Regions from separate parts of the Homo sapiens genome. Here region 1 is linked to region 2. Evidence: fine-mapped expression QTL. A gene starts in region 2. The other region holds a variant in brackets. All regions are shown on one strand. Distances are between the middles of the regions. Region 1 has its middle 48 kb from the start of TMEM254. Region 2 holds the start of TMEM254-AS1 (TMEM254 antisense RNA 1).

What was found. PIP is the estimated chance that this variant, and not a neighbour inherited with it, causes the effect.
Region 1: its variant is fine-mapped to the expression of TMEM254-AS1 in iPS cells (HipSci, PIP 0.95).

Annotation. Positions count from the first base shown.
Region 1 is chr10:80,026,245-80,035,918 of GRCh38, forward strand. It overlaps the pseudogene C1DP2. Among named protein-coding and RNA genes, the nearest start is that of TMEM254, 48 kb to the right of the region's middle. RefSeq lists an enhancer at 9,195-9,674. The variant T/C (reference allele first, on the strand shown) is at 4,269.
Region 2 is chr10:80,073,517-80,083,190 of GRCh38, forward strand. It overlaps TMEM254-AS1 (TMEM254 antisense RNA 1), which reads right to left and starts at 5,677. Exons shown (of 4, transcript NR_027432.1): 1 at 5,211-5,677. TMEM254 (transmembrane protein 254) reads left to right here and starts at 5,149. Exons shown (of 4, transcript NM_025125.4): 1 at 5,149-5,270; 2 at 8,325-8,428; 3 at 8,629-8,688. The coding sequence starts at 5,184.

The DNA of each region.
Region 1 (9,674 bases), 47 kb before region 2:
CAATGAATAAGAGGACATCACAGATTTGTCCCTCACCAGTGAGGGGTGAGATATTCCAATCCTGCAAGCACAGGGTCATGTTGAAACCATCTTCAAGAAAACAGAACCAGGGCTGGGCGTGGTGGCTCATGCCTGTAATCCCAGCAATTTGGGAGGCTGAGGCAGGTGAATCGCCTGAGGTCAGGAGTTCCATACCAGCCTGGCCAACATGGTGAAACCCCATGTCTAATAAAAATACAAAAATTAGCTGGGCGTGGTGGTGGGTGCCTATAATCCCAGCTACTCCAGAGGCTGAGGCAGGAGAATCACTTGAACCCGGGAGCTGGAGGTTGCAGTGAGCCAAAATCCTGCCACTGCACTCCAGCCTGGGAGACAGAGGGAGACTCCATCTCAGAAAAAAAAAAAAAAAAACAGAACCAGATTTCCCACTGGCACTGACAGGGCTGGTATTCTTAAAGCAGTAACTTTGAATTTGTATCTGGACACATTTCCATAATTAAAAGAAAGAAAAGAAAAAATAAAAATAAAACAACAACAAGAACAAAACATAAAACAAAGAAAAAGAGATATCTCAAGGTTACTTTACATCACTAGGCCTACACCCAAGGGTAGAGACCAAAGCACCAGCTGTTCTTCAGAGAAGAAACACGATGATCCAGATGAAAGAAAGATGTTTCCCAATGGGCTCAGATGTCCTTTTAGAATCAAGGGAATGTCCCTAGTACATGCCAAATCACTACTTAAAGTTTATCTGGTGGGGCATGGTGCCTCATACCCATAATCCCAGCACTTTGGGAGGTCAAGGCATGAGGATCACTTGAGCCCAGGAGTTTGAGGCCAGCCCTGGCAACACAGCAAGACCCCATCTCTACAAAAAATAAAACGACTAGCTGGTGTGGTGGTGCGACCTGTAGTCCCAGCTACTCAGGAGGCTGGAGTGAGAAGATCACTTGAGGCTGAGAGTCAGGGCTGCAGTGATTACAGGCATGAGCCACCGTGCCTGGCCTTTTTTTTTTTTTTTTTTTCATCATGTAATACGTCCATGTAATGAAATTTATTTCTTACAGTGCTGAAGGCTGGGAAGTCCACAGTCTCTGGGCCGCAGCTGGTTGGCTTCTGGCAAGGGCCTCATCCTGCATCATAACATGGTGGACAGCATCACATGGAGGGAAGTCGCAGGAGACAGAGCCGAACAGGCTTTTATAACAGACCCACTCTCATGATAATTCACACACCATTATTCCTACTCACCCATTAACCCACTCACTCAGGAATGGATTCACCCATTCATGAAGGCAGGGACCTCATGATCCAATTATCTCTTAAAGGACCCACCTCTTAATCCTGTTACTTTGCAGACTAAGTTTCAGCATGAATTTCAGAGAGGACAAACAAATCATAGCACCATTTTAGTCAAATACACCTCAATAAGAATTTCACCATTTTACTTAATCTTTTCAGTGAATAAAGTATTTGATTTTGCAATTAGATTTTGATTATGGGATAGAATGTGCAAAGAAATAAACTTTTGTAGAAACCACAATAGTTCTTTTTATTTCCACCTATCAGTCTAGGTGTTTATAAAACTCAACTTGACTTTTTAAAAAATTATAGAATGGACATGGCAACAGGCAGATATTACTCCATGAGACTCAGCTTCTCCTGTTCTTTTTTTTTTTTTTTTTGAGACAGAGTCTTGCTGTGTTGCCCAGGCTGAAGTGCAGTGGCATGATCTTGGCTCGCTGCAACCTCCGCTTCCCAGGTTCAACCAATTCTCCTGCCTCAGCTTCCCAGGTAGCTGGGATTACAGGCACAGGTCACCACGCCTGGCTAATTTTTTGGTATTTTTATTAGAGACTGGGTTTCACCATGTTGGTCAGTCTGGTCTCAGACTCCTGACCTCAAACGATCTGCCCACCTCAGCCTCCCAAAATGGCTTCTCCTATTCTTGAAGAAATCAACACATCTACAGCTGACATTTCAACTATTGTTGTGATGGGCTACCAAGGGCATATAGTGACAGAAGATCTAAGATCCAGATGGAGCACTGTAAGTTGATAGAAACACCAGTGAAATTTCCTATAGGAATTTCTCTTGGCCACATCATATCTGAGCTAAGAACTATAACCCACTTTTCAAAAGAGTGAATATTTTATTCACCTGAAAGCTGTGCATATCTGGACTCCAACTGGACAGGGGAGGCCGCAGAGGGGCAGGCTAGTTCCTTTAAGGAGACACCATGAGATGACCAGGGACTATCCAAACTATCCATATCCCCACAGCAGGCTCCCCACTGCACCTGGACTGCCACCTGCCACCCTTCTACTTCTCTCCAACCTTGGTTTCCAGCTGGAGCTGGTTGGAGAGTGGAGGGACTACGCTGTGAGCCCTGGAGACTCTGTGTGGGGTACATACTCCTTTGTTTGGAACCAAACACAAATTATCAACTCCTGTTAGCAAGAGACCATGAGGTCAGTGAAAGAAAAAGAAAAAGCCCTTTTTTTTTTCTTTTTTTTTTTTTTTTCCGTTTTTTGAGACCAGGTCTCACACTCTCACCTAGGCTGGAGTGCAGCAGCACGTTCTTGGTTCACTGCAACCTCTGCTTCCTGGGCTTAAGCAATTCTCCAGCATCAGCCTCCTGAGCCCCTGAAATTATAGGCATGGATCACCACACCAGGCTAATTTTTATATTTTTTGTAGAGATGGGGTTTCACCATGTTGTCCAGACTGGTCTCAAATTCCCGAGCTCAAGTGATCTGCCCGCCTTAGCCTTCCAAAGTGCTGGGATTACAGGCATGACCTACTGCACCCGGCCTAAAGGCTTTATTGTCTATAACAATAAATAAACAAAAAGATCTATGGATCGGGGAGACACAGGCTCCAGTGTAAGACAAAAATTGAGCTCCAAAGAACAAAAAGAGGTCTAGGGAAAGGTCCTGCCCTAGACGTCAATATGGTCTGTACATGCAAATGAGGATTGAAACTGGTTCAGACCTCACTGGTTGAAAATAACTGTGTCTCAGTTGGGTAGTTTCTAAGCCCAAAGCCAGTGGTCTCTGTAGGGTGCCCCTTTCAAGCAGCTGGCAGGAGATTTCCAGCCACGTGTCTCGGCTCTGGTTTCAGAAGCCATCTTAGCTCAGAGGTACAAACAGGATGTTTGTCTAGAGCTGCCCTCTCCTGGAAAGAGGAAGGCATGACTGCTCTTCTCTCACCCCACCATGGCCCCTTGGCTCCCATCATCTTCATTTGAGTGTCACTTTCAGCCACAAGACGTCCTTCTCCTCTGGAGAGCTTGGGGTCATCCTTAGAGCTTCATTTCAGACTCCCAACTTGCACAAAGTCCCAGTTGCTCCTGCTAGGGAATGAGGCCCAACATTCCCACCAGAACCAGGCTCAGACCTTTCTCTCCAAAGCTAAAATACAATCTCAAGTAATGACAAGCCAATCCCAATTCTGCCTCTAGGCACTAACTCCCCATTTTTGGCTCCAAAGACAGGGCCACCTTTTGAAACCACCTTTGCAAAATTATGACAGTAATTTGAGTCTGACATAATTGACTCTATCTTGTTTCTAACCTCCAAGCTATGTTCAGTCATTCCTGGACATAGATCAAGCTGCTGACTTTGGGAGAAATGTAGCTTATAGTTTTTTTTATTTGACTTGATTATTTTATTTTATTTTATTTTTTTGAGAAGAAGTTTTGCTCTGTCGCCCACACTGGAGTGCAGTGCACTCGGGTCACTGCAACCTCTGCCTCCCAAGCCTAGCCAGTTGGGCCTGCTGCCACTGCGAATGCCAGAGGGAGACTCACCAGGTCAGGAGAGCATGAGCTGGGCAGGCCTCACGGCCACATGCAGGGCTGATAACCCCAGGTCACAGGTAGCATAACAGTTGTACACCACTGGTGCCACTGCATTGCCTAACTGCCCACAGACATACCCCACAACCCACTTGACTCTAGGAAGCACAGGGGACCACAGAGATGTCACTGGGGAGTTGCGGATCCCTTGGTGTCATAACCCTCTGTGCAGTCCCCTCAAGGTTGGGGGAGTGCAGCCCACCAAAGCCACCTTTGGAACAAAAGAAACATGGCCACAGCACTAGTCACTGAAGGAGTCACCATAAGAGCCTGGGAATGGACATGGAGAGGGTGTCATCTCTTGCCTCTCATTTCCCCTCCCCAGTGCACTGTTGCAGATGAGGCAGGGGCACTTCCACTTGGGACCCAGTAAGCACGTGATGAAAGAGGCTGCTCTGGCCGGGCGTGG[T/C]GGCTCATCCCTGCAATCCCAGCACTGTGGGAGGTGGAGGTGGAGGTGGGCAGATCACCTGAGGTCAGGTGTTCTAGACCAGCCTAACCAACGTGGAGAAACCCCATCTCTAGTAAAAATACAAAATTAGCTGGGCGTTGTGGTGCACACCTGTAATCCCAGCTACTCAGGAGGCTGAGGCAGGAGAATTGCTTCAATCCGGGAGGCGCAGGTTGTAGTGAGCCGAGATCACGCCATTGCACTCCAGCCTGGGCAACAAGAGTGAAACTCAGTCTCAAACAAACAAGAAAACTAAAAATAGAATTACCATTCAACCCAGCAATCCCACTACTAGATATATGCCTAAAGGAAAATAAATAATTCTACCAAAAGACACCTGCATTCCTATGCTTATCACAGCACTATTCACAATAGTAAAGTCATGAAACCAACTTAGGTGCCCATCAGTGGTGTACTGAATAAGGAAAATGCGGTACATATACACCATGGAATACTACACAGCCATAAAAAGAATGATATCATAGACTTTGCAGCAACATGGATGCAGCTAGAAACCATTATTCTAAGAAAATTAATGCAGAAACAAAAAACCAAGTATTGCATGTTTTCACTTATAACTCAGAGTTAAACCCTCGGTGCACACAGACATAAAGATGAGAACAAAAGACACTAGGTACGCCAAAAGAAGAGAAGGAAGGGGGGGAGGAAAGGGTTGAAAAACTATCTATAGGATACTAGGTTCACTTTTTGAGTGACAGGATCAATAAAAGCCCAAACCTCAGGACAATTGATTTGCAGTATGTGCAAATATATCCATGTAACTAACCTGCACATGAAACTTCAAATCTAAAATAAAAAATAAAATAAAATAAAGCAATGACTGGATTAAAACTTCTACCAAGAGATCATTTCAGTTGTCTACACTACTACAGAGGAAAAATAGTGTGTGCTTTTGCTACAACTGATGAGCTCAAAATAAATAAGAGAAAGAAGAAATAGACAGTGAATTGGGGAAGTAGCTAACTGTATCTGGAACTGCATCCAATCAGCTACATTAAATGGCCTTTATTGAGTATTTTATATGTGTCTGTGGATGGCATAAGTGTGTTATTTCATTGAAAATAGTACAAATATTTTCAAAGAACATTTCACTTAAATTTCACAGTTCCTAAGAAAATGCTACCTGCAAGACTGACCTACATAAAGAAATAAGAGTCTCTTCAAAAGAGATGGTAAATTGTAAATATAAAATATATCACAATGTTAAAATCCTCATAGTGCAAATCAATAAAGATAACAACCTTTGGAGAGGAAAGTATTGAGCTTTACAAATTTACTGTAAATTTACATATTAATTCAACAAGGAATACATTTAAACCTTGCTCTGTCACAGAATTACTTTGTGGGAAAAAAAGAGATGTACTTTTTGAATATGTGTACATCAAATCCAAAAAGTTAACTTTTACTTTTTCCTTTATGGGCAACTTTGGATGTATTTTTCGGTTTTGGTTCCCAGAGGGCATTTCTTACAAATCTTGAAGCTGCACCTCTGTCCAGCTTGCCAGCCTTTTTCTTGTCTGTTATTTCCTTGACTCTGTTCATATATACTCTGATTCTTTCCAATTCCTGCTTTACTGGATGTTCCTTAGGATTCACTCCTTGAGTTGCCAAATAAACCCAAAACATTGAATTTAATGTGTATGCAGAAACCAAATCCACTTTTGCTTGTTCAAGTGGGTCCAACTTCTGCAACAACTCATTTCTAGAAACAGACATCATGTTCTTCAGCATCTCATCCACAGCATCAATGGAATTCGCAAATGCTGACAAATAATCGTGAATTTCTACTGGATAGTCCTCATTAATTTCTTCAGCTGCCATCATGGCTGACTCACGGCCTTCGACTCCAGTGTCCTAGAAAGCAGTTGGGCAATGATGACATCAATGACGTGCCAGATCTAGAACAGAGTCTTATAAAAGTATTTCTCTACATTCCCAGAAATACATTTATTATAATTGCATCTTATGGCCCTTTTTTCAACAGAAGTAAACTTCCTGGAACATTGGAAGAGCACAAAATTTATTTTCTAAATGAAATATTCTAAGACGCTTGTCATTCTCTCAGGTTCAAAGCCTAAAGAGGTACACCAATAAAACAAGATTCACTATCCCATCGAAGATCATGGGGAGATGTTTGCTCAGGTGGTCACGTGATGTGCAGAAACAGAGGGAGACACAATTGAACTAAATAAAGAAAGACGTAGGCTGGACGCAGTAGCTCAGCCTGTGATCCCAAGACTTTAGGAGGCCAAGGCAGCACACTGCTTGAACCTAGGAGTTCTACATATATATATATATATATATATATAAAATATATATACATAATATAAATATATATTTTATAAATATAAACATATATTTATATACATTATATATAAATATATATTTATATATAATATATTATAAATATAAATATATGTAATATAAATATATATATAATATGTATATATATATTAAAAATATGTAATCCCGGCTACGTGGGAGGCTGAGGCAGGAGAATCGCTTGAACTCAAGAGGTAGAGTTTTCAGTGAGCCGAAATCTTGCCACTGCACTGTAGCCTGGGAAACAGAGGGAGACTCCATCTCAGAAAAAAAAAAACAGAACCAGATTTCCCACTGGCACTGACAGGGCTGGTATTCTTAAGGCAGTAACTTTGAATTTGCATCTGGACACATTTCCATTATTAAAAGAAAAAAAAGAAAAAATAAAAATAAATAAAACAACAAGAACAAAACATAAAACCAAGAAAAAGAGATGTCTGAAGATTACTTTACATCACTAGGCCTACACCCAAGGGTAGAGACCAAAGCACCAGCTGTTCTTCAGAGAAGAAACACGATGATCCAGATGAAAGAAAGATGTTTCCCAATGGGTTCAGATGTCCTTTTAGAATCAAGGGAATGTCCCTAGTATATGCCAAATCACTACTTAAAGTTTATCTGGTGGGGCATGGTGCCTCATACCCATAATCCCAGCACTTTGGGAGGTCGAGGCATGAGGATCACTTGAGCCCAGGAGTTTGAGGCCAGCCCTGGCAACACAGCAAGACCCCATCTCTACAAAAAATAAAACGACTAGCTGGTGTGGTGGTGCGACCTGTAGTCCCAGCTACTCAGGAGGCTGGAGTGAGAAGATCACTTGAGGCTGAGAGTCAGGGCTGCAGTGATTACAGGCATGAGCCACCGCGCCCGCCTTTTTTTTTTTTTTTTTTTCATCATGTAATACGTCCATGTAATGAAATTTATTTCTTACAGTGCTGGAGTCTGGGAAGTCCACAGTCCACGGGCTACAGCTGGTTGGCTTCTGGCAAGGGCCTCATCCTGCATCATAACATGGTGGACAGCATCACATGGAGGGAAGTTCGCAGGAGACAGAGCCGAACAGGCTTTTATAACAGACCCTCTCTCATGATAATTCACTCCCCATTATTCCTACTCACCCATTAACCCACTCACTCAGGAATGGATTCACCCATTCATGAAGGCAGGGACCTCATGATCCAATTATCTCTTAAAGGACCCACCTCTTAATCCTGTTACTTTGCAGACTAAGTTTCAGCATGAATTTCAGAGAGGACAAACAAATCATAGCACCATTTTAGTCAAATACACCTCAATAAGAATTTCACGATTTTACTTAATCTTTTCAGTGAATAAAGTATTTGATTTTGCAATTAGATTTTGATTATGGGATAGAATGCACAAATAAATAAACTTTGGTGGAAACTATAATTGTTTCTTTTTCTTCCACCTATCAGTCTAGGTATTCCTAAAACTCAACTTGACTTTTTAAAAAATTATAGAATGTACATGACATGCAAATAGGCAGATTTTTCCCCATGAGACTCAGCTTCTCCTATTCTTTTTTTTTTTTTTTCTGAGACAGAGTCTTGCTATGTTGCCCAGGCTGGAGTGCAGTGGCACGATCTCGGCTCACTGAAACCTCTGCTCCCCAGATTCAAGCAATTCTCCTGCCTCAGCCTCCAAAGTAACTGGGATGACTGGTTTCTGTCACCACACCCAGCTAATTTTTGTATTTTTAGTAGAAACAGGGTTTCACCATGTTGGTCAGCCAGGTCTGGAACTCCTGACCTCAGGTGATTCTCCCACCTCAGCCTCCCGAAGTGATGAGATTACAGGCTCGAGCCACTGCCTCCAGCTGTGACTTAAACTATCATAAACTCTAGAAAACAAGCCCTTTAGCATCAACACAGAGAACAGCCAGCAGGCTGATAGGAACTTACCATTTGAACTTTTGGCCAAATCCATACTGGGAAGGGAGGCCTGGATTCCAGAGTCTAGTGACTTCACAGAACAACTGCCAGGGACACAAGATACAAAAAAACGCAGGGTGGCCCACCCATCTCTCAAACTGCTGACATCAGGTGACCCGCCCCCCTCCGGACCCAAAGTGCTGGGATTACAGGCATGAGCCACTGAGCCTGGCCACACCCATTTCTTAAATACCTTTCTACTGAATCCCTTCATTAAATATTTAACACCACTTAAAAGGATTTTGAAGTAATTAGATTAAGGGTAAGATGAATTTTAAGTAGAAGTACAGATTCTACTACGTAATTTTTCGTCTATCATGATACTTTTCCAAATATGACTTTGGTTTTCTGCTCTCTAGTTTCCACATATTTAAGCATTTTCTTCTCTGAGTTCAGGTTCTTTTATTTCTTAATTATTTTGGCTTGGCCATGTTATTTCACAAATGGAGAGTCTCGCCTTACTTTATACGTTTCACATTCTCCGCAGCTTTTCCTGAAAAGTATTTTATCCCATCATCAATGTGGTGGTCTGGCCATATGTCAAGTTAGTTAGTCTAAGCTCTGCAGTTCATCCATCAAACATGAATGCAAGTGTTGCTATAAATGCATTTTGCATGTGTGATTAATATATAAAATCAATTGGCTTTACCCAAAACAGATTATTCACTGTAATGCGGGTGGGACTGGAGAGCAACTTTAGCTCCTGCCTGAGAGTGTCAGCTTACCTTTCCCTACAAATTTCTTTCCTGCCTAGTCAGTCCCCACAATTGTGTAAGTCAATTTCCTTGAAAACTGGTTCTGTTTCTCTGGTCGAATTTTGACTGACACAGATATTGGTCCTGTTAGTGGCTGTATAACAAAGAATGTTATAGATGAGTTTTCTGAATTGATTCTGGGTTTCTAAAATTGATTCTCTAATCAAATAAACTTTAAGGGCACTGGCCAGGCACGGTGGCTCAGGACTGTAATCCCAACACTTTGGGAGGCCAAGGTGAGTGAATCACGAGGTCAGGAGTTCAAGACCAGCCTGACCAACATGGTGAAACTCCCGTCTCTACTAAAAACACAAAAA
Region 2 (9,674 bases):
TGTTTCAATAATTTTTCTTCTTCTCCTCCTTCCTTCCTTCCAATTTTACCTCCATCCAATGTACACAAGATATGTTCACTCCACTAGTTAAAACAAACAGAGCAGGTATGGTTGCTCATGCCTGTAATCCCAGCATTTTGGGAGGCCAAGGTGGGAGGATAGCTTGCGCTCAGGAGTTCAAAACCAGCCTGGGCTACATAGCGAGACCCTATCTCTATTAAAAATAATAATAATAATAATAATAATAATAATAATAATAATAATTAGCTCAGCATGGTGGCCCAAGCCTGACCTGTAGTCCCAGCAGTTTGGGAGGCTGAGGCAGGAGGATCACTTGAGCCCAGGAGTTCAAGACCAGCTGGGCAACATAGGGAGACTCGTCTCTACAAATAATAAATACATTAATTAAATAAAACAAACAGAATTTCACTGACTCACCTTGGCTAAGGGATCAAATCAAAACCCCTCGGTTTGATACCAAATGCCATTCATGATCAGGACTCCACCTGTCTTTGCAGCCTCAACTTCCTTCACTCAATTTCTTCACATTGTTTTTTTCTAGCAACAAAAAATTTCTCCTAATTCCCTGGACACACAATATTCTATTCAAATTTCTGTAAATTTGTTTAGGTCGCCCTTCCCCCATCCTATAATCCTGGGAAGGTGTGGGAGTTTTTTGCTGTATCTCAGCACTTGTCCATCCTATAGCCACCTCATCATAACTCCCCAAGGAGGACTACTTATTAATACCTCTGTATCTCTTGATACTGCATCATTTGTGTATTTGTGTTTGGGAGTGGACAGTATTATTTAAAATATTTTTTCTGGAATAGATAACTAATTGCCCCAAAATAATTTACTGAATAATCCATTATTCCTTCCTTAATTTGAAATGTTACCTTTATTATAAAATAAACGCTTGGATATGTATATACCAGATCCATGTCTGGAGTCTGCATTATTTTTTCATTGATCCATTTGTTGATTTCTGCATGTCAAGTGCCAAATGTTTTACATTATTATAGCTCTTTACAGTGTGTCTTGATATCTAGTAGGCCAATCTTATGAGGAAAAACAATGTTATTTTTGCTTTATTTTGCGTATCCCATAGGGCCATTAAGATTGAACCATCCTTTCATTTTGCTTGGTCTCAAGTTTTCTCTTTTGAGGATGCCCAATTCATATCCTTTAATCATTTGTCAATTACATATATTGGAGAATTCCTTCTTCCAGGTATTTCAACTTTATTTACAGTGTCATTCATATGAATGAAGCTTTTCATCTGGATGCAGTTAAATTTTCAATCTTTCCTTCTATGGCTTTTAATTTTAATAACTTGCTAAAAGGTTTCCTTCCCCTCCCTCAAAAGTTGTAAAACTATTCTCCCAGACTTTCTTCATTATTTTTCATATTTAGGTCACTAATCCATCTAGACAGGGGGATAAAAATGTCCAGGGATGAGATATTTCTCTGCCAATTCAGATGGGACAGCAGTGTAGGGTGCCTGGACCTTAGAGAATTCAGTCACCCCTGCCGTGTGTGAAGGGTGACTGTAATGAAGAAAGGAATGCCTTCTGAACATCCAGTTGACTGTAAGTTCTTCATGAATTTACATAAACTACTCACATCTGAACAAAGATCTTCTGGTACTGTCTTCTGGATTCCTTATCTGTGCGTGAGGGGCTAACAGTAAGATGTTTAGTGTTGAGCTGTTGGTGGCCAGGTACAGCCTCTAACTATAATCCCAGCACTTTGGGAGGCTGAGGTGGAAGGATTACTTAAGGCTGGGAGTTTGAGATCTGCCTGGGCAACATAGTGAAGCACCGTCTCTATTAAAAAAAAAAAAAATAGTGTGGAGTTGGAAGACATAGGACACTAAGTAACAGGCTGGGCTCCAAGCAGGGTTGTAGAAGACATGAAACTAAAACCTAGCTCCCTGTAGTCTGTTGACTGAAGCCATTTTGCCTCTCCAACATTTCTTGTAGCATGAATAATTTCTCCAATATCTCCCTCGTTGCAGATTTAATACCTAAATAGAAATACTGAAAAACGGCAGCCTAAAATTGGGGAAGTTCTTGAAACTTTTGGTAAGGTAGGCTGGGTATGGTGGCTCACACCTGTAATCTCAGCACTTGGGGAAGCCAAGGCAGGTGGATCACCTGAGGTCAGGAGTTTGAGACCAGCCTGGTCAACATGGCGAAACCCCATCTCTACTAAAAATACAAAAAATTAGCTGGGTGTGGTGGCATGTGACTGTAGTCCCAGCTACTAGAGAGAGTGTGGCAGGAGAATCACTTGAACCCAGAAGGCCAAGGTTGCAGTGAGCTGAGATTGCGCCATTGCACTACAATCTGAGCAATAGAGTGAGACTCTGTCTCAAAAAAAAAAAAAAGTTTTGGTATGGTAAAGGCTTGATCAGAACTGTACTTGAAAAAGATGATCCTGTTATTTGTCAGACAGATTCAATAAAGGGACTGCATGTGGGCTGAAGTGGCAGGAAGTAGGAAGGAGTGACTGACTCATGAGACAGTGGAGATGAAGCCATGATTTAATCTAGAAGGATTAGATATTGTATTACCCAATCAGTAGAACTCTTGACAGCTGATTAGTCTGCAATCTTTATATGATATGGGGGAAGTCAAAGCAAGGAATCTGGGTACAAGGTAGAAAGAAAGTGCTGTTCACATAGAGTAGGCCGGGCGAGGTGGCTCATACTTGTAATCCCAACACTTTGGGAGGCCGAGGCAGGCAGATCACCTGAGGTCAGGAGTTCGAGACCAGCCTGGCCAACATGGTGAAACCCCGTCTCCACAATTAGCCAAGCGTGGTGGTGCACACCTGTAATCCAAGCTACTCAGGAGGCTGAGACAGGGGAATCACTTGAAGTGGGGAGGCAGAGGTTGCAGTGAGCCGAGATCGCAACACTGCACTCCAGCCTGGGCAACAAGAGCAAAACTCCATCTCAAAAAAAAAAAAAAAAAAAAAAAAAACCACAGACAGGGTAGCCTTGGTGAGGATGGACTCTGTGGATAATGATAATGGACTTCTTGTCTTTGAGGTGTGAGTAATCTTTGGTAAAGGTGACCAACTGGGAAGAGGTGAGGGCTGAAGAGATTATTTTAGTCAGCTGAAGGTGAAAATTGAATCTGATAGGTACTGAAAACACAAAGAAGATAATAAGCAAAACTTATTCTAGGAGAGAAGAAAGAAAAGGAAAGCTGAGAAAACAAGGAGTTATTCAGAAGGAGGAGAAGAATAAAGAGGGTGGTGTGATCAAGGATGATAAGGACTAAGAAAACACCAATTGTTACAATTGTTACTGTTAATCTTGATATTCAAGAGCACTGTGGTCTACCTGGGAAATGGATTTCCTCACATATTCTGAAATTCATTCTTTAAGACTTTATATCCCAAGATACTCACGTAAAAAATGAGGAAAGAGAACCTTGGTTGGTTCCAGAGTGCCCTCTCTGGAACTGGAACACTCAGCTGCCAATTGTTTTCCAGTATTCCTCACCCACTTGGGCATGACAGGACCCTGTGCTGTTTCTTCTTCTTTGAAATAAGGACAATAGTTTACTGCCTAGGATTGTTTTAAGAATTAAATTAGTTAATTATTGTATAGTACTTAGAACAATGCCTTGAACATAGTAGGTGTTCAATAAATACCAGCTACAGTATAGTAACTTTTTTTTTTTTTTTTTGACGGAGTCTCACTCTATAGCCCAAGCTGAAGTGCAGTGATTGGATCTCGGCTCACTGCAACCTCCGCCTCCGGTGCTCAAGCAATTCTCGTGCCTCAGCCTCCCAAGTAGTTGGGACTATAGACACGCGCCACCACCCCCAGCTAATTTTTTGTATTTTAGTAGAGACAGGGTTTCACCATGTTCTCCAGGGTGGTCTCGAACTCCTGAGCGATCCACCCACCTCGGCCTCCAAAAGTGCCAGGATTATAGGCTTGAGCCACTGCGCTTGGCCAGTAACCCATTTTTAAGGCCCAGGTGAAATAGTTTTTCTATTTCTATGATTTTCTATTTCTATGATTAAATAGTGTTTAATCAGACACTTCAGCTGCATATACCTCCCACAGCTCATTGATGATACAACAGTTCGCACAGGGCCTGGCACACATGCTAAAGGCTCAGCAGTATTGATAATCACCCACACTTACAAAGCACTATGGGCCAGACACTGCTGTGCTTTCTTTACAGATATCAACTCATTTAACCCACCCTAAAAACCCTGAGGTTCCCAAAACTGGCATATCCTCATGTTACAGATACAGAAACTAAGACACAGCCGGGCTAAGTAATTAATCTAAGCTTACACAAATAGCCGAGACAGAGCCAGGACTTAAATCCAGGCAGCCTGTTTCACAGTCCCTGCTCATAACCATGGTGCTGTATAGTTCCAAACATCTTAACTAATGAGGACAGCATTATTTCTCAAGGTGCACAGCACAGAGAACTTCAAAAATTAGACTCTTAGTAAAACACCATCTTTTTTTTTTTTTTTTGAGACAGGGTCTTGCTGTGTTGCCCAGGCTGGAGTGCAGTGGCGTGATCTGGGCCCACTGCAACCTGCACCTCTCAGGTTCAAGAGAGTCTTGTCTCAGCCTCTGGAGTTGCTGGGACTACAGGCAGGCACCACCGCGCCCAGCAAATTTTTTGTATTTTTAGTACAGACGGGGTTTCACCATGTTGACCACGCTGGTCTCAAACTCCTGACCTCAAGTGATCTGCCCGACTCGGCCTCCCAAATTGCTGGAATTTATTCCAACACCTCATTCATTCATTCATTCATTCGAGACAGAGTCTAGCTATGTTACCCGGGCTGGTCTCAAACTCCTGGGCTCAAGGGATCTTTCTACCTCAGCCTCCCAACGTGCTGAGATTACAGGGACACGCCACCGCGCCAGCCCGAACATCTTTATCTTAAACCCAGAAAAGTGACAGGAGTGTCTCCCCTACAAGATGATGACCAGCCCTCCAGACCTGAGCCCAGGTGTGATTCCAAGGCCCCTGTACTGGGGCCAGACAGGGAGACTCGCTCTCAGGGACTTCCCAACCAGCACCATCTTCTCCCTGCGGGGATGGCGAGGGAGCGCGGGCCGGCCCCGGCCCTGCCTCCGCGCTCGCGCTCGACGGTGTCCTGAAGCGCGCTCCCGGGGAGGTGTTGCAGCCATGGCTACGGCAGCCGGCGCGACCTACTTTCAGCGAGGCAGTCTGTTCTGGTTCACAGTCATCACCCTCAGCTTTGGCTACTACACAGTAAGGACAGCCGCTGGAGCGCTACGGTCTGACGAACGAGCGAGCGCTCGGTTCACCCCAGGACCTGGGCTCACAGGCCGCGGGCCGGGGGAAGTCGTGCAAGCACAATCCCGACTCCCGCGCGCTAGGAGCGGAGGGGAGGGGACCAGACTCCGCAATGAGAGCAAGCATACTGGTCCGCCAGGGTCTTGGGCGGGCGCCCAGGGCCCTGAGAAACCGGCTAGCCAGGCTTTTCTTATATGGGGGCGGGGACGGCTGGGGAGCTCCCAGCCAACTCTGTGTCTGGGTTTTTCAAGAGGATGGTGAAGTCGGAGGCCAGCAATGCGGCTACCGCCTATTTCCGTCCAGCAAGACCCTTGCCCTCTCTGGTCACAGTCCTGGGGCTGGGCTACTTCGCGGTGAGGCGTGGGGTGGGGCGGGGCGGGCCTCTGTTTTGGCCCGCCGGGCCCTCGTAGGGCGAGGGGAGCTCTGGGAACGGGGCCTGTGCGCACGCGCATCTGACGGTTGTCTCGGTTACTCATGTAAGCGGAAATTCGGTGGGCTCTTAGGATAGTTTCTGCTTTCTAGTGTTCCTGTCTTTGGGTCCTCACCTCTGCATGGTTACTAACGGGTTATCCGAGCCTAAGCCTCTCACGAAGCGGAAAGTCAAGTTAACAGACTGCCATAGGCCTGCCAAGTCAGAATAGGGCTTCCGAAGCAGAATGTTTGAGCCAATAGGAATTGTTTGGAAAACGGGGATAAATCTAAAGGATGGGTAGGATTTAAGTGGTAAGGGAGGATAAAGAGGCTATAACTGTTCTGACATAGGTGTGGAAGCAAGAAGAAAGCTGTACCTAGAAAAAGAGCGACGTTTGTTTGGCTGAGAAATAATCTGTTTAAAGGATAACGAGAAAGATGCGTGGAAAAGTAGGTTGGGGGCTAAGGTGGTAGTTTTGTGTTTTTTTGAGACGGAGTCTCGCTCTGTCACCCAGGCTGGAGTGCAGTGGGGCGATCTCGGCTCACTGCAACCTCTGCTTCCCAGGTTCAAGCGATTCTCATGTCTTTACCTGTAGCTGGGATTACACTATGCCCAGCTATTTTTTTGTGTTTTTAGTAGACATGGGTATTGGTGAGGCTGGCCTCGAACTCCTAACGTCAAGTGATAAGGTGGTAAAATTTTGAAGGAAGGCGAAGCTATTTGGGTATACCAATAGATCCTGGAGATTGGAGATTTGTCTTGTCCACAGTGTTGTTTGTTGGTGTCAAATCTGACAACCTATGTCCTGATTTCCCCATATGTACAATGGAGGTGTTGAACTGAAAATTTTCAAAGGTGCATTTCTGTTCTACGATTTAGTGTCTGTGACTAGTTAGAATATAGTTGGAGGAAAGCTTTGGGGACTTCAAATTGGGATCTTGTGGAGCTGGCAGATGCTCCCCTTTCCCTTTGGTTTGGGAGGATGCAGTGATATTTGTGCATTATTTAACTTTCAGATGTGAAACAACATCGTGAGAGAGGTAGTACTGCTCTTGACAAAGATTTGAATGGGACAATACATTTTGAAACTGTTGAGTTATTCTCAGAAAAGTCTTAGCTGACAGAAGTTACAATACAGAGGCTGAAAGTTAAGATTACGAAAAATTTATGTGATTAAGCAGTTGCTATTAAAATGTCACAACCTTATCTCACTTATTTTCCATCTCTATGCAGTGGATCATTCTCAGTTTTAGCCGTACAAAAAGGGAAAGCCGAGAAAGGAATTCTAAATTAAACAGAGGTTTGGCTGGAGCCAGTTTCTGCAGTAAAGAAACTAGCCAAAGCACATAAACTCAAAATTTGCTAATATCTTTTATAAAATAATGGTTTTGGTGGAATGTATTAATAGGAGTCAGCCAGGCATGGTGGTTCACCCCTGTAATCCCAGCACTTTGGGAGGCCGAGGCGGGCAAATCGCTTGAGCCCAGGAGTTCGAGACCATCCTGGGCAACATGGCAAAACCTCATCTCTACACACACACACACACACAAAATTAGCCATGGGCAGTGGCTCACACCTGTAATCCCAGCACTTTGAGAAGCCGAGAAGGGCGGATCACCTGATGTCAGGAGTTGGAGATCAGCCTGGCCAACATGGTGAAACTCTGTCTGTATTAAAAATACAAAAATTAGCTGGGCGTGGTGGCATGCACCTGTAGTCCCAGCTACTCTGGAGGCTGAGACAGGAGAGTCGTTTGAATCCGCGAGGCGGAGGTTACAGAGAGCCGAGATCGTGCCACTGCACTCCAGCCTAAGCGACAGAGTGAAACTCCATCTAAAATAAATAAATAAATAAATAAATTAGTCAGTCGTGGTAGCCATGCCTGTATTCCAGCTACTTGGGGAAGCTGAGTTGGGAGGATCGCTTGAGCCCGGGAAGTCAAGGGTGCAGTGAGCCGTGATCAGGCCACTGCACTCAAGCCTGGGTGACAAAGCGAGATCCCTTCTCTACAAAGAAAACAAAAGAAGAAAAGGAAGAAAAAAAGACTTTAAGAGTCATCCACCGTGGGCACTGAGTCTGATAACCACATACTTTCCTCAGCATAAGTCTCCCAGTAGAGTTGCTTTTAGAAAATAGAAGTCATCCTGGCACAGTAGGTCATGCCTGTAATCCCAGCACTTTGGGAGGCCAAGATTGGAGAATTGCTTGAGCCCTGGAGTTGGAAACCATCCTGGGCAACATAGTGAGACCCCATCTCTATATACAATTTTTAAAAGTAGCTGGGCATGGTGGCACACACGTGTAGTCCCATCTACTTGGGAGGCTGAGGTGGGAGGATGGATTGAGCCCAGATGGTGGAGGCTGCAGTGAGTCATGATCATGCCACTGCACTCCAGCCCCAGCAGCGGAGTGAGACCCTGTCAAAAAAAAAAGAAAGAAAGAAAATAGAAGCCAAGAATGGAGACCCAAATGACTGTTCAGAGTTTCTTCGGTCTGTGGTAATTTTTTTACTGTTTCACAGCCTTTCTCAAAAACAAAAACAAAAAACAGGTTTTAAGTGACCTAATAGGTATTCTGTGTCTCTGCTTCTCTTTCAGTGGGTTGTCTTCTGGCCTCAGAGTATCCCTTATCAGAACCTTGGGCCCCTGGGCCCCTTCACTCAGTACTTGGTGGACCACCATCACACCCTCCTGTGCAATGGGTAAGGAGAGCTGCACAAGTGGACTGTGGACACTGGAGCTCTGGTCTCATGGGAAACCTGGAAGGCCTGCAGCTGCCTTTTGGTATCTAAGAGTAGTGTCGGTTCACCTTAAGGCACTTTTCTTTTTGAGATTGCTGTGTTAGATTTCATCAGCAGATAACTATCACCTTAAAAAAGATTAACCTTTTTTTTGGTTTCAGGTATTGGCTTGCCTGGCTGATTCATGTGGGAGAGTCCTTGTATGCCATAGTATTGTGCAAGTAAGTCTTTGAAGTAGGTGTTTGTTGCCTTTCTCTTAGTAGCTAATATAAATTGAGAGCAGCCACATTTAAATAGTTCACACACTTGTAGGCTGAGAATATTCTCAGGGTAGAGCGGAATCCCCATGCCTGATACTGAGCCTGGAGCAGAGGCAGTACCCAGTAAATGTTTGATGAATGCATTCATTTTGTTTATGTTGGTTAACCAATTACTTAGTTATCTAATTCAGATGACTTTTGTTATTTTTTAACAAATTTTCTGGGTAGCCCCAACTAGATCAAAAGACTAGGAATAGGAGCCTGGCTTCTAGTTTACAAAAGAGCTAAGTGACTGACCTAGGCCGATGACTCACAATCCTCGTTTTACAATTGAGCCACCTGAGGAGCTTTTTCAAAATACACACGTCTGGTTTCCAGACCCAGAGATTCTGATTGGGTAAGTCTTGCCTCAGAGATAGGAATGTGCTCTTTTTAAAAGCTCCACAGATAATTCTAGGATGCAATGCTAGTTAAAAGCCCCCAAACCAGACCCCACTCAGGAGATGCTAGTATAGGTTAATGCTATGTGAGAATACAAGAAAAAATTATGTTTGTACTTTATATAAGCATATACAGAAAGTATGGTACAATGAAAAACATGGTTATGGAAATGCCAAATTGCTTCTTTCCAATTAATTTCTGGTCAAGATAATAATTAATTGAATTAATTTCTGGTCAAGATATACTATCACCTCTATTATTTTTCTATTCTAAAAGTGGAAAATAAGATACTGTATTGCTATTACTATGTTTCAATAATAAAAATAATATTGATTGGGTACTGCTATGTCAGAGACTGCTAAGTATGTTAAATAGAATGATCTTACTCTGTTTTCTTGTTTATTAAACAAATAAGCTAGACTTTTTTTTTTTTTTTTTTTGAGAGGGAATCTTGCTTTGTCACCCAGGCTGGAGTGCAGTGGCGCAATCTTGGCTCCCTGCAATCT